Linked DNA regions of Homo sapiens. The protein of the gene in region 3 purifies or fractionates together with the protein of the main gene of each other region. This does not show direct contact. Each region holds a gene or a part of one and is shown on either strand. Other genes may lie near its edges.

What was found. The genes of interacting proteins can lie anywhere in the genome.
Region 1: the proteins of SCAMP1 (region 3) and TAF5 fractionate together in Homo sapiens (co-fractionation; one large-scale study listed by BioGRID). This does not show direct contact.
Region 2: the proteins of SCAMP1 (region 3) and RAB14 purify together in Homo sapiens (affinity purification with mass spectrometry; one large-scale study listed by BioGRID and IntAct). This does not show direct contact.
Region 4: the proteins of SCAMP1 (region 3) and RAB5B purify together in Homo sapiens (affinity purification with mass spectrometry; one large-scale study listed by BioGRID and IntAct). This does not show direct contact.

Annotation. Positions count from the first base shown.
Region 1 is NC_000010.11:103,374,476-103,377,975, reverse strand, and holds part of TAF5 (transcription initiation factor TFIID subunit 5), read right to left. Parts: intron 1-3,500. UniProt on the Homo sapiens protein: The TFIID basal transcription factor complex plays a major role in the initiation of RNA polymerase II (Pol II)-dependent transcription.
Region 2 is NC_000009.12:121,188,370-121,191,869, reverse strand, and holds part of RAB14 (ras-related protein Rab-14), read left to right. Parts: intron 1-1,138; coding exon 1,139-1,316; intron 1,317-3,500.
Region 3 is NC_000005.10:78,416,117-78,419,616, reverse strand, and holds part of SCAMP1 (secretory carrier-associated membrane protein 1), read right to left. Parts: intron 3,077-3,500; coding exon 2,968-3,076; intron 843-2,967; coding exon 714-842; intron 1-713. UniProt on the Homo sapiens protein: Functions in post-Golgi recycling pathways. Acts as a recycling carrier to the cell surface.
Region 4 is NC_000012.12:55,977,078-55,980,577, forward strand, and holds part of RAB5B (ras-related protein Rab-5B), read left to right. Parts: intron 1-2,294; coding exon of another isoform or gene 2,295-2,397; intron 2,398-3,500. UniProt on the Homo sapiens protein: The small GTPases Rab are key regulators of intracellular membrane trafficking, from the formation of transport vesicles to their fusion with membranes.

The DNA of each region.
Region 1 (3,500 bases), on a different chromosome or scaffold from region 3:
GAAAAATAATATACCCACCATTGGTAGACAGTTTCTTTAGAATGGAGACATTTAAAAGAAACTGGTAGACATTTGAAAATATAAGAACCCTTGCTTTACTAAATGTTATGGTTTCTCAAAACCCACTTTTAAAAGTTTTATTATGAAAATTTCAAAGGCATAAAAAAGAGTATAATGAACTCAATGTACACAGTACTCAGCATCTCAACAATAATCAATATATAACATTCTCATAAAACCCATCATTTTTAATGATTTCCTATATTTATTGGAAACATGTACCAGACATTTTTAAAATATCAATACTTTAATATGATCACTAAACAACAAAGTGGAAGTACTCATTGTTTGGTATCAACAACTATTACCAAAGACAATAAAATAAAGCCTTTAGCCTTGATAACAACTAGTAAACTTAAATGTACTTTTGTTTTTACAACGCTTAATTTTCCTAAGAAAATAAAATTAAAGACAATATATTTGGCATTCACTAAAAACAGCAATCAATGCAAAAACATTTTTAAAACAATGACTAAACATATTAGGGCTCCAGCTCTGATAAGCACATAGTCAACAGATTTCTAAACTGTTAACTATGTTACCCCATTACAACTCATCAATATATGATCTAAGATTTGAATAAAATTAGAAATCTCAGCCTCTTATATCAGTAACTGCCCATTATCCTCCTGTGGTGATGGGGTCCTGGCAAGGGGTGAGACTGTCCATAATGGGAAGACAGAGAATCCCCTATGACGTTCCAGCTTCCTATGTGGGGAGACAGCTACACCATGAGACAGGAAGAGCAAAAAGGTTTTTCCTTCTTTTTTAGAGACAGGTTCTTGCTCTGAAGCCTAAGCTGGAGTGCAGTGGTTCAATGCAGCCTGAAACTCCTGGGTTCAGGGATTCCTCTTGCCTCAGTCTCCCGAGTAGCTAGGACTGCTGTGCCACCATACTCCACTAATTTTTGTTTACGCGATCTCAGCTCGCTGCAACCTCCACCTCCAGGGCTCAAGCAATTCTCATGCTTCAGCCTCCTGAGCAGCTGGGACTACAGGCACGTGCCACCATGGCTGGCTAATCTTTTGTATTTGAGTAGAGATGGGGTTTCACCATGTTGGCCAGGATGGTCTCGAACTCCTGAGCTCAGGCATTCTGCCCGCCTTGGCTTCTCAAAGTGTGGGATTACAGGCATGAGCCACCATGCCCGGCTCAATTTTTGTTTACTTTTTGTAGAAGCAGGATCTCGTTCTTTTGCCCAGGCTATGTTTTTGTTTTTTTAAGTGACAGTATCTATGTTGCCAAGGATGGAGTGTTTAGATGACAGTACTTTAAAGAGAAATTAGCTTCTAGGGTAGAAGTTCTGTCATCAGCCTTTCTTATTTTTTTTTTTTTCAAAAGCACTTGGCTACAGAACATTTTGCCTTATATACTTCCTATTAGGCATCCTAATATAATGAATTTACTATAATGGCATAGAAGCCAGGGGTGCTAAGTTCTACTGTTCCTCTATTACTACTACCCTGTGTTAAGTGATAAATCTTGACTTCAGGCTCTGTTGCTTGTATTAAACATTTCTCATTCAGGCCAGGCCCAGTGTCTCACACCTGTAATCCCAGCACTTTGGAAGGCCAAGGTGGGCAGATCACCTGAGGTCGGGAGTTCAAGACCAGCCTGACCAACATGAAGAAACCCTGTCTCTACTAAAAATACAAAATTAGCCAGGCATGGTGATGCATGCCTGTAATCCCAGCTACTTGGGAGGCTGAGGCAGGAGAATTGCTTGAACCTAGGAGGCGGAGGTTGCAGTGAGCCGAGATGGCGCCACTGCATGCCAGCCTGGGTGACAAGAGCAAAACTCCATCTCAAAAAAAAAAAATTATTCACACTGCTAAGCACGGCCTCCTTTTTTTTTTTTTGAGATAGACTTTCACTCTTCGCCAAGGCTGGAGTGTAATGGCGCAATCTCAGCTCACTGCAACCTCTGCCTCCCAGATTCAAGTGATTCTCCTGCCTCGGCCTCCCAAGCAGCTGGGATTACAAGTGTCTGCCACCACGCCCGGCTAATTTTTGTATTTTTAGTAGAGACAGGGTTTTGTTATGTTGGCCAGGCTGGTCTCAAACTCCTGACCTCAGGTGATCTGCCCACCTCAGCCTCCCAAAGTGCTGGGATTACAGGCATGAGCTACCACACCCAGCCTGCCTCCTTCTTAAATACTCCTTTCCCTTGGCTTCTATAACTCAGCCCTCCCCTGGTTTTCTTCCTGTGTATCTCTTCTACTTGGCCATTAAATTTGGAGCTCCTTGGGCCTAGCCCACTGACTGACTTATTTCATACTCTCCCCTAGTCAACCTCATCCATATCCATCAATATTGCACACAACTCCAATTAATAGTTCTAGTCCCTACCTCTGTTCTGAGCTCTCATATATCATCTACCTATCAACTTGACATTTCTTAAATGAGTCAAAGGCATATTCAAATCAGAACTCAAAATTATTCCAAGGCTGACAAATCAAGTCCTCTTCTAGGGTTTTCTGTGTCAGGAATTGGCTCCCCTATCCAGCTAGAACGGCCAGAAAACTGGAGATTTCAATGATATCTCCATCTCCCTCACCTCCCTAGCCAATCTATCAAGTGTCTCATGACTTTGTCTACTTCTCTTCACCTCCACCACAACCTAGTCCAGTGCTTCTCAATAAGGGTGCTATTAACATTTTGGGCAGGATAATTCTTTGTAAAGTGGGACTACCTAGGTGCACATATTAGAACATTTAGTATTCCTGCTCCTCCGCCCAGTCATTATGACAACCAAAAATGCCTCCACACATTTTCTTTTTTTTTTTTTTTTTTTTTGAGACAGGGTCTCACTCTTGTCATCTAGGCTAGAGTGCAGAGATGCAATCTCAGCTCACTGCAACCTCTATCTCCCAGGTTCAAGCGATTCTCCAGCCTCAGCCTCCCAAATAGCTGGGATTACAGGAGTGAGCTACCACACCCAGCTAATTTTTGCATTTTTTTGAAGAGACTAGGTCTCACCAGGCTGGTCTCAAACTCCTGAGGTCAAAGTGATCCACCCGCCTCAGCCTCCCAAAGTGCTGGGATTAAAGGCGTGAGCCGCAGCGCCGGGCCACCTCTACACATTTTCAAATGGTCTAGTGGAAGGAGCAATTCCACCTCCAGTTGAGAACCACTGCAATAACTTCCAAAACTTGTCCCTATAGTCATTCTATCCCCCATTTGTTTTCCCCACTGCATAAAGGTCCTTTCAAAGTATATATCTAATAACGACATGGTCCTTTAATGACTCTGTAGCAGAAATGACTCTGTAGCAAAAAGGCTTCGCTCTCCCCAAATATCCATTTTTCCTGTCTTCCTCCATAAAAGAAAACCTGAATATCAGCTGGGCACATAGACACTTAGGTAAAGACTACATTTCTTATTTCCCTTGTAGCTAGGTGTGGCCACTGACTGTTAAGATATAAAAGGAAGAAGTGTGT
Region 2 (3,500 bases), on a different chromosome or scaffold from region 3:
TGATTGTCTTATTAGGAGAAATTTGCTGCATGTATCATTTGTTAAATAACAGATTTGAAATACTTAAAATGGAATTCTTTCTACTCTTTCTTGGGTGATAGAAGGGACCAATGTGTTGTAACTGATATGCTAAATATAGTTGAAAGTGTTTCTGTATAGTTGAAATTATTTCTTTGACATTTTTGTGCTGCTTACCACAGAGGTTTGATGTAACATTTTATGAAGTGCCCAGAAGTCTGTGTCCTTGTACTGGAGAATGGTGGGTTTAGGTTTTAAGTGGCCTCATTATAAGGAAAGGACTAATAAATTTGTTAATTGGCTTAGACATATATAACTTGTCATTGTATAATAAGTAGTATATGTTAGCCAGGTGTGGTGGCTCATGCCTGTAATCCCAGTAGTGCTTTGGGAGACTTACGTGGGAGGCTTGCTTGAACCCAGAAGTTCGAGGTTACAGTGAGCTATGCTTGTGCTACTGCACTCCAACATGGGTGACAGAGCAAGACCCTGTCTCTAAAATATATGCATATATATATAAAACATGCTGATTTTCTTTGAGACACTGATATTTTCTGGGATAAGAATCTGTTTGACTAACAACTCCTAGGGTACCAAGACCATTGATTGATCTGTTATAGATAATGATTGTAAGAAGGCTAAATGGTATAATGTTGATATTGTGAAGAATTAATTAAAATCCTTATTTTTACTTAGCAGATTATTTTAGTCGAGGGGTCAGCAAACGGTGGCCAGTGGGGCAAATCCAGTCACTGCCTGTTTTTGTGAATAAAATTTATTGGAATACAACCATGCCTGTTTTACATATTGTCTCTGGCTGCTTTTATGCCTCAGTGGCAGAGTTGAGTAGTTTGTGACAAAGACCTTTTGACCTGCAAAACTTAAAATATTTTCTGCTTGGTCCTTTCTAGAAGTTTGCTGACCCCGATTCTAGTACAGTCACATTTCCCTGACTTCTTACTTCTGGGTGTTTGTTAATTTTTTTTTTAGCGGTAGCTTTAGTCTATTTATAGCCTGTAAGTATTAGTAAGCCATTTGCTTATTTAGTGGATTTTCCCCCTCTAGGCTTAATTTGAAGTTTTCTGAAAATTGGGCTATTACTTTTTTTCCTCCTTAACAGTTATGGCTGATTGTCCTCACACAATTGGTGTTGAATTTGGTACAAGAATAATCGAAGTTAGTGGCCAAAAAATAAAACTGCAGATTTGGGATACGGCAGGACAGGAGCGATTTAGGGCTGTTACACGGAGCTACTACAGAGGAGCTGCGGGAGCTCTTATGGTCTATGATATCACTAGGTAAGAGATAATTTTTCAACCTTCATATGGGGAAAATAAATCTACTTTGGGCATTTAAAAAAAAATTGATAGGCATTTTTTTTAGTTTGTAATTGTATGACTGTGAATGAACTTACTTGTTTTTTATGGTTTCTTAAGTTGCCATGTAAAACTTGATATAACACATTGATATTTTCCAAAAGTTTTTATGACTGAAGAAAAATTTAGGGAGTTAGTTATTGGGTGAAGCTAATAGAAGAATACAGTTCTGAAAAGCAGCTTCAGTTGAATGATTTGAGGAGAAATAATATTTTATATAAAATGTTCTTTTAAGTAGAAAGCAAGCAACTCACTCTTGGGACTTACTCTATTTAGTCTCTAGTGTTAAAGTTTACACCTCTCAAAAGAAGGCCAAGCAAAGAGTTTTGCTAGTCCAGCATGGTAGATTATAAAAAACTTTATGCTTGCATCTGAAGGTGTTTGAGTATTTATTTACTAATTTTTTTTTCTCTTAAAATGGATAGAAATGACTTCAAATACTACATGCAGTAGGTTTAAATTTATTTCAACATGACTGTTTCTGGAATTCCAAAGCACTTGATGTAAAGTAATAAAACTACTGTACATAAAGGTTTGACTTTGGAGAACATGGAAAACTGTGCCACTTGATTAGACCCTGCACTGTTTGTCTACTGTAAGCTAGAAAATGAACTGGATCACCTTTCATGTTGATGTAAAGTGCCAGTCAAAAGCAATGTGACTCTGTTTCTTGGGGGTAAAGATGGGCGAGTGGGACCAAGTGATAATTAGAGTTTAAAGCATATTTCCTTTCGGAAAATGCCTTAAAAGGTTTCCTCTTGATGTGTCATAATGTGCGTTAGCATATTAAGACTCTGGGAAGTTCTGCAGTAAGAAATTCTTTGCTGTATGACTTTATTTAATTTGGTGTTTCCTAAGCTTATTTTATTGAGGAACACACTTTGGGAAATGCTGCCTTAGAATAAAGATATTGACTAATTATAATTATAGTGCCTAAAGTTTTCAGTAAATTCTAGAATTGGGTGGCCTCAAAGGGAAACAAGCCTTAATGCCCTTCATTATAGCCAGGCAATCTGTGATATGATCAAGAGTATTATGGGAAGACTGTTAATAAACCTGGCCGCCTACGCAGAACTGTCTGATTTTATAAGGAATGCATTTCTGAAGACTTCACATAATTAAAAACTCAATAAAATTTAAGTATGGTGATGTGTGCTAAGAATATTGTTTTTGCTTTTAAGCATATCTTTTAAGCATAGTTAATACTTTTGGTAAAATCTGTGTCTATTCAAGTCATCAAAAAAAGTACTTCAGCTGGGAACAACCAGAACATGCATCAACTGATGAATGGATAAACACTGTGATATATCCATACAATGAAATGTTACTCAGCTATAAGGAAGAAGGAAATACTGATACAGGCCACAACATAGATGAAACTTGAAAACATTATGCTAAGTGGAAGAAACCAGACACTAAGAGACACATACTGTATGATTTCATTTATGAAATATCGAGAATTTATATTCTGGTAAATTTATAGAGAAAGAAAGTGGATTGCCAGAGGATGGGAGTGAGTGACTTCTAAGTGAGTTCAGAGTTTCTCTCTGGGGTGATGAAAATGTTCTAGAATTAGATAGTGGTGATCAGTGCACAGGTTTGTAACTATCCTTAAAACAACTAAATTACGTACTTTAAAAGAATAAGCTTTATGATATGTTCATTATATTGTAATAAAAACTGTTACTGGAAAAGAGTACCCGAGGCTTTAGTCAGGCGCTAAAGTGATACTTTATAGTGACTTTGGTGTTGCAGTCATGACAGCAATTTTTTTCTGTTATTCTTTGACATTTTACAAACGTAAAAGTCCCTTTTTATTTTTGTCATTAACTCTCATTGTTACAGGGTGCTTTTCTAAATTGACAGCGTAGCTTGTCGTGACAGTTGTTTTGCCATAACATTTTGACATATCTAGTATTTTAGCACTTTTTTTTTAGTACTAGTACCACCAATTAATATTTGAATAATATTTATTTATAGATTTAAAATTATAATTATAGTGAATATTAAATTAATAACAATTACCAGAATCATTGGCAGAAGTTATAGTACATGTAAGTAATATGGTTTATATGATTTTGGTACTAGGCTTTTCTGTGTACTTCA
Region 3 (3,500 bases):
GGTATCAAAATGAGGCTGAGACTACTGTTTGGAATAAAAATGAAACAGAGAGTAAGTGGGAGGTCTGTGCACACAGAGTAAAACTGTTAACGGCTTGACATTTTGTTTCAGTATTCCATGAGTTATTATACTCAAAGTGATGTAAGCATCAGAGCCCCAAACGTATATTCTAATGTTCCGTTCAACAAAATGTCCTGTATTAATTAAGCACTTTCAATAATAAAAGTATCGCAATTGAAAACAAAAAGTAAACTGTACTCAAAGCTATAAAAAGAACACTTAGTTTATGTAATAATTTTATGCCCTTTTAAAAATAGCTAAAACGCCTACATTTAACAGAATTCTTTTAAATGGCCTTCCTCTGCATAAAATTAGTATGCACTATTTTTTCCAAGCAAATCATGTCTAGATAACATCTTTCAAGGAAAAAGAATCTTATAAAATTTTACCCACATGACAGAGAAGTTGTCTTTTCCTCAAAAGAATGCCAGTTCTCAACATACAAGTTTTTCTCAGCCAAGGACTTACATTGTCACATATAGTACAATTCTGAAGTACCTAAATAGGATATGTTTCACTCTGAAATCATGATTATTAAGCTTTATCTATAGAAAAAGAAGACTGGTTTGCTATACTATCCTTGAAATAAAAATGCGGATTTTGACAACAAAAATACAAATTCTAAGCAAAGATGTAAATTGTTGTATACTCACACATCCACAAGTAGTACATAAGCTTTACTGTCTTTTGGAATTCTACAGGAATGTCTACAGAAAAATCCTGATAGAAACAAGGTCCGACAGGAAAATTGCTAGGAAGAGGTGGCCAATTATTTTTTCTACCTGTAAATTTTTTTTAGAAAAAGAAAAGGTTATTTATATTATAACAAATGTGATATTATTTTTTGTTTCATAATAAAGAAAAACTCTATTATGTTAACAAAAGTTCAGAAAAACTGTAGAACTATATCTTTGTATTCCTAGAACTCTGAAAGACAAGCTTTAGATTTTTAAAAAATTTTCTCAGAATATCATCACCTTAGAGCACATTAGATAGTAAAATAATTTTCCAGTGTCATATCATACCATGTTTAGCAGGAACCATTTATGTACAGAAAAAACAAGAAACAAAAAGAAAGCACATATCCAGTGCTTCTACCCTAAAACAGATTTATTTCACAGTCCAAAGAGTCTGGCTGGCATGAAAGGGCCATCCAGTTTTTAAACTTCAATTTTCTCCTCAGCATCTTAAATCTTCAAATATAATTCTGTTATAATTCCTATCTCAAGTGGAGAAAGACTAGCTTCTAATTTTTTCAAGTTTTCTGTTAAGTCCAAGATTAAACCAATACCAAAGAATCAAATTTAGAATACTCAAAATCTGGGAAAAAATAATATCCAAAAGATACATGTACGAAAACCCTACAACAAAGAAAACATGAAACAGTCATGATAAGGAAGCTGAAGAATTATAGAACCTTTAAAAATGCAGAGAAAAACAAATTCAAACTGTAAAGGGAAAAAAATGTGTCTACATAAAGAAACCAGATTAAAAATAAGACTTGAGAAATGGTGGGGGAAATAAAAAATTAAAATAAAGAAGTCAAAACATGAAAATAGCGGGTAAAAACAGCACCTAAGGCCATTTCCCGATTTTAGATGTTATATCCCACAGTTTTTAAAAATTCAATTTTACCTACTTTTCCCAGACCAGGGTAATTTTTATAGAAAGAACAATAACCTATTTCTGATTCTCCCCAATGAGTCTCCTGTGTTCCATTTATCATACTATTCAAATTTCATATAGTTCATTTCTCATACCAATCTCATACTATTTGAGAAGCGGCAGTGAATACTCGTAAAGAAGAGAGGCTCTGGAACCAGAAGTGGCTAGCCACTTACTGGCAAGGTCGCCTTGGGCAACTTACTCTCTCCTCCGAGCCTTAGTTTCCATATCTGTAAAATGAGAATAAAAACTCTATCACCCCTCACAGGATTGTATTGATGATTTAAGTATGAGTTAAGAGGGGAAAAGTACTAAAATGTGCTAACATACTGCAGTCTAATTGTTAATTTCCTACTCTTTGTTACTGTCTTTACTAACATAACTCTCATAGAAATAGTTTGTATTTGCCAGTGCTAAAGAAATAGGATGGATTTTAGTTACAGGTACTTCAGAAACATTGGTCCCAGTTCAACTTTTAGTTTCTCCTTCTATAGATGCTACCTCTGATGCTGCAAGCAAGAAAATGACCCAGGATAAATGTGTTCTCATGAGGCCCTAGACTTACACATTCTAAGTTAAAAAGAAATAGTTCTGTATATTGTTATTGTTCTAGCTTTGCATTGCATCACTATCCCAGACATCCTAACAATGACTTATCTAGCTCTTTTATCTCTTCTTACTCAGAGACTGCTAGCTTTCCCTAAGAGACTCCTTTGAAGTGCTTTGGCAGGCACAAACTTAATAGAATTCACTGCAACAATTCACCACTTATTTCTTTGGCATCATATGAATACCTTAGGCTTCCAATTTTTCTAACATGATTTGACAAAATACTTGCGAGGACTGGGGCAGATAATCTGAAATTAACCTGAATAAATCAGGTAAAAGTCAAATGTAGGGTACATGCAAATGTACTCATAAAGAGTCCACAGAACCAAGGAGGGCCTAACTGCAGAATCAAAGGCTCCTGGCCTCAGAGTAAGCAAAAATTATCATATTCACATTCATTTTCTGTGTGATGAGGCTAACACTGTTCTAAGCTATCAACAAAAGACTATGCAAATCAGCCAAGATTAGAAGGCTACAGAGTATCAAACAGGCAATCTGCTGTGTCTGATCTCCTTGTTAGAACAGGAAAACAGGGTAGGGTTTTATCCACAGGCCAAATGACCTAGGAGCTAGTATAGACATAATGTAAAGTATTTAAAAGTTATTTTTATTTCAAATTTCTTTGGATACTACCATGTTGACTGAGGTTTTGCATTTCTCGTTCCCGACGATCTAATTCTGCGGCTTTTCTTTCTAGTTCTTCCTGGCGCTTAAGAAGTTCAGCTTGGGCCAATGCATGTTCCTAAATAAAAAATATCAATATGTGAATAGACTGTCAGAAGTATAAAATACTTTAACATTTATATGCTAACTCCTACTTCTCTACTATGAGAGAAACCTAATTCAAACACACTTCCAAAGTACAGGAATTTACTGAAGATCATAGTTACAGAAAATATTATGAGGATATTTGGTCCATTTGGTCTTTGGGTTCCAGAAACTCTCAGTGGGAATGTTGGGTCCATTAGGAGAGGAAAACTTCTCTTAGTAAAAGTAGTCACAATCTTTAGGTAATCTGGAAAATGAAATTAAGATGACCTCTATGCCTAAATGAGTGAAGAACAGAGGCAATGGGAACAGTTGAGGAAAATGAACAATAGAAAAAAGGGCAACTGAATTGGCTCCTATTAATCAGATTAAATGATATATAAGGCCACCAATGCAAG
Region 4 (3,500 bases), on a different chromosome or scaffold from region 3:
GATTCTCCTGCCTCAGCCTCCAGAGTAGCTGGGATTACAGGCGTGCACCACCACGACCAGCTAATTTTTGTATTATTAGTAGAGACGGGATTTGACCATGTTGGCCAGGCTGGACTCTAACTCCTGACCTCAGGTGATCCACGTGCCTCAGCCTCCCAAAGCACTGGGATTACAGGAGTGAGCCACCGCGCCTGGCCGTGTGTGCGTGTGTGTGTGTGTGTTTTAATCCTATCTAATTTTTCCAACAGTTTTTTGCATCCTAAGAGAGTTTAGGAGTAGAATTATCAATAAGGAATTTCATACATAGACCTGGAGTTGCAAAAATATATTTGGAGAAGAGAGCTTTCCCATTGCCCTTCAAGTCATACCTCATATCTTTTAAAATTTTTTTCCTGGACAATCCCTACTGCATAACATACCTCATATCTTCTAACTCTTACTTTACCTGGGAGCAAATATTGCTTATTGGTATGAATTTTACTTCTGAGAAGGAGGCATAGGGTAGAAGAAGCAAGCGTATAGTTTGCTCCCTAATCCTAAAGCATTTCAGATTGGAAGGTAACCAAAGTGTGAGACAATGAACTTATAATAAGGAAATGCAGCAGCCCTCTTGGAGGAAGGATACCATAAAACCCTACATGGTATACTCCCACTTCCGTTTTGGGAAAGATTTAGCCATTGACTCAACAGTAACTGAACTGAATAAGGAGCTACCCAGGTGAACAAAGTATGTGTACATTTCTGGGCAAGGTTGTAGCTTCTGTTCAGGGACAGTGGGTACCTTTTCAGAGTGTCTCCTGGTTCTGTGGTGTTATGGCTCCTTTTTTTAAACTTGTGTTTCTCAAGTCAGGAATTAATAGATAGTGGCCCAAAGCTTTTGACCGTTCAACATCAACTGAAAATTCAGCGAACTTTGTTTTTAGCTATAGTTGCCTCAGTGTTTGGGTGGGAGGGCCACATATTGGGTGTGATTAGGCCATCTGAGGCATAGTAACGGGTGACAGGAAAAGCAGTTAGCCCATGCGAGTTGCAATAGTACCTTGTGGGCAAGATCCCAAGGGGGCCCTCCATCCAAGGGAGATCACAGAGGAGCCAGGGAGAGAATTGATTCTGAGGCCTATTAAAAATATTCCCAAATGGGGCCGTGTGCGGTGGCATGCGCCTGTAATCCCAGCACTTTGGGAGGCTGAGGCGGGTGGATCACGAGGTCAGGAGATTGAGACCATCCTGGCTAACACGGTGAAACCCCGTCTCTACTAAACAAAATACAAAAAATTAGCTGGGCGTGGTGGTGGGCGCCTGTAGTCCCCCAGCTTCTCGGGAGGCTGAAGCAGGAGAATGGCGTGAACCTGGGAGGCAGAGCTTGCAGTGAGCCGAGATCGCGTCACTGCACTCCAGCCTGGGCGACTGAGCAAGACTCCGTCTCAGGAAAAAAAAAAAAGAACCCAAATGGAATTGAGTAAGATCTGTCCAGATGGTACAGAAAGGGAGGAGTTGATTGGGGGAGAGAAGTAGAATTACTTAGCCTTAATTTAGGGAGCATTTAATGAGCACCTACTAGGGATCAGGCAGCATGCTGTGCTCTGAAGATTTTAAGATAAACTCCCACTTTTAAAGAAGTTCATAGTTTAGCAGAGCAGACAGACACAATTTATATACTGTGATAATGTGATACATACTATTATAGAAATACAGTCTTTTTTTTTTTTTTTTGAGACGGATTCTTGCTTTGCTGTCCAGGCTGGAGTACAGTGGTGCAATCTGTGCTCACTGCAACCTCCGCCTCCCGGGCTCAAGCAATTCTCATGTCTCAGCCTCCTGGGTAACTGGGATTACAAGCCTGTGCCAACATGCCCAGCTAATTTTTGTATTTTTAGTAGAGACGGGGTTTCACCATATTGGCCAGGCTGGTCTCGAACTCCTAACCTCCAGTGATCCATCTGCCTTGGCCTCTCAAAGTGCTGGGATTACAGGTGTGCGCCACCACACCTGGCCAGAAATACAGTCTTAATACTGTGGGACCCTACGGGCCTCTAGAGAATGATTAATTCTGTGGGGGAGAGGGTGATTATGTAATTTCACTGAAGTAACATTTGAGCTTGGTCTTATGAGATATATAGAATTTTGCTAGGCAGACAAGTAGGGACGGGCATTCCAATCTTACCTAGGTCAATAATAGGGAGTTTGTACTACCATACTGATAAGAGGTAAGTATGCTTTTTGCCTCTTGGAGAAATATAAGGGAAAGGGTGCGAGATGTGGAAGGAATCTCATTTAATCCAATGACTCATTAGGTAACACTGGATCAACAAAATGAAGAGCTGAGCCAAGTGGTAGAACTCTCATTTCAAGATTTTGGTGACTTGGGTTTAAACAGAGTTGGAGAGGGAGATGAAGGTATTTACTGGTTTCTGCTCTATCTTCCCTACTTAGTAAAACTCTCACATTAATCGCAGGGCCCACCAAATTCTGCAAAAGTTACCGCTTGTTTTCCTATTGCCTCTCATTGAATTGCTTCTATTTCAACTGTCCTGGCAGGGTTTGGTCATAGACCTTCTAGAAAAGAGTAGTGATGAATTAATTCTTCTGTCAGAAAGATATGGGACTGCATCCCAGTTGCCAAGGAAGGCCTGGGTCTTCTTAATTTGTTTTTAGTCCCAAAGCAAGTACTTACCTAAACTGAATAGAGGCAGGAACTCTATCCAGTCTAAGCTCTCGATCCTGTCCTGGTGTTCTCTTTAGAGTTCAGCATTTCCTGCTTCCTTAAGAAGTATAGTGGTATAAGAGGCAGGAGTACCTGACTAGGAGTCCTACATTTACTGCTTAGCAGTTGGCTGTATGGTAACACTTGACAAGTTGACTAATTTTATTTTATTTTTTATTTATTTATTTATTTTTTGTGCAAATGGTGGCCTTTAATACCAAGAAAGACCATGACAAGTGACAGAACAGGAGCAAATTCCCTAGTGTAGTGCCGAGCTAGCCCTTTGCAGGACCCTAAAACCTGATCTAGTAACAGAATAAATCAGTGTATTTACATTTATGTTTGCCCTGAAAACCCAGGTAAGGTCTGAAGCCTGAGGCATCTCTCCTTCCTTTCCTCCTCCCTCTCTTCCTACCTCCTTGCCTTCGTTCACTTCCTCAATTCATTCCTCTCCCTTCTCCCTTCCTCTCTTTTCCTTCTTTTCCTTTCTGCTTTTCCCTTTTCTCCTTTTTCTCCTCATTCTCTTTACCATCTACCTATGTGTCCCTCCAAGCCCCTCTGCTATTTCTCCCCTGCTCACTCCCTCTGCTGTTGTCTCCCTCAGGTTCAGCTTCCGGGGTGGGGAGGCAAGAAAGGGTCCTCAGCTCAGGGAGCACTTGTTGGTGTTCTTTATGTCACAAGTTTTCAGGTCAGTACTGGGAGGCTTGTTGCCGTTTCCTGATCTCCGGCCTCCTGACTTGAGCAAGATGTCCCGGGCCAGGGAACTAAAAGCCTCATCCACATTCATACTGGATTT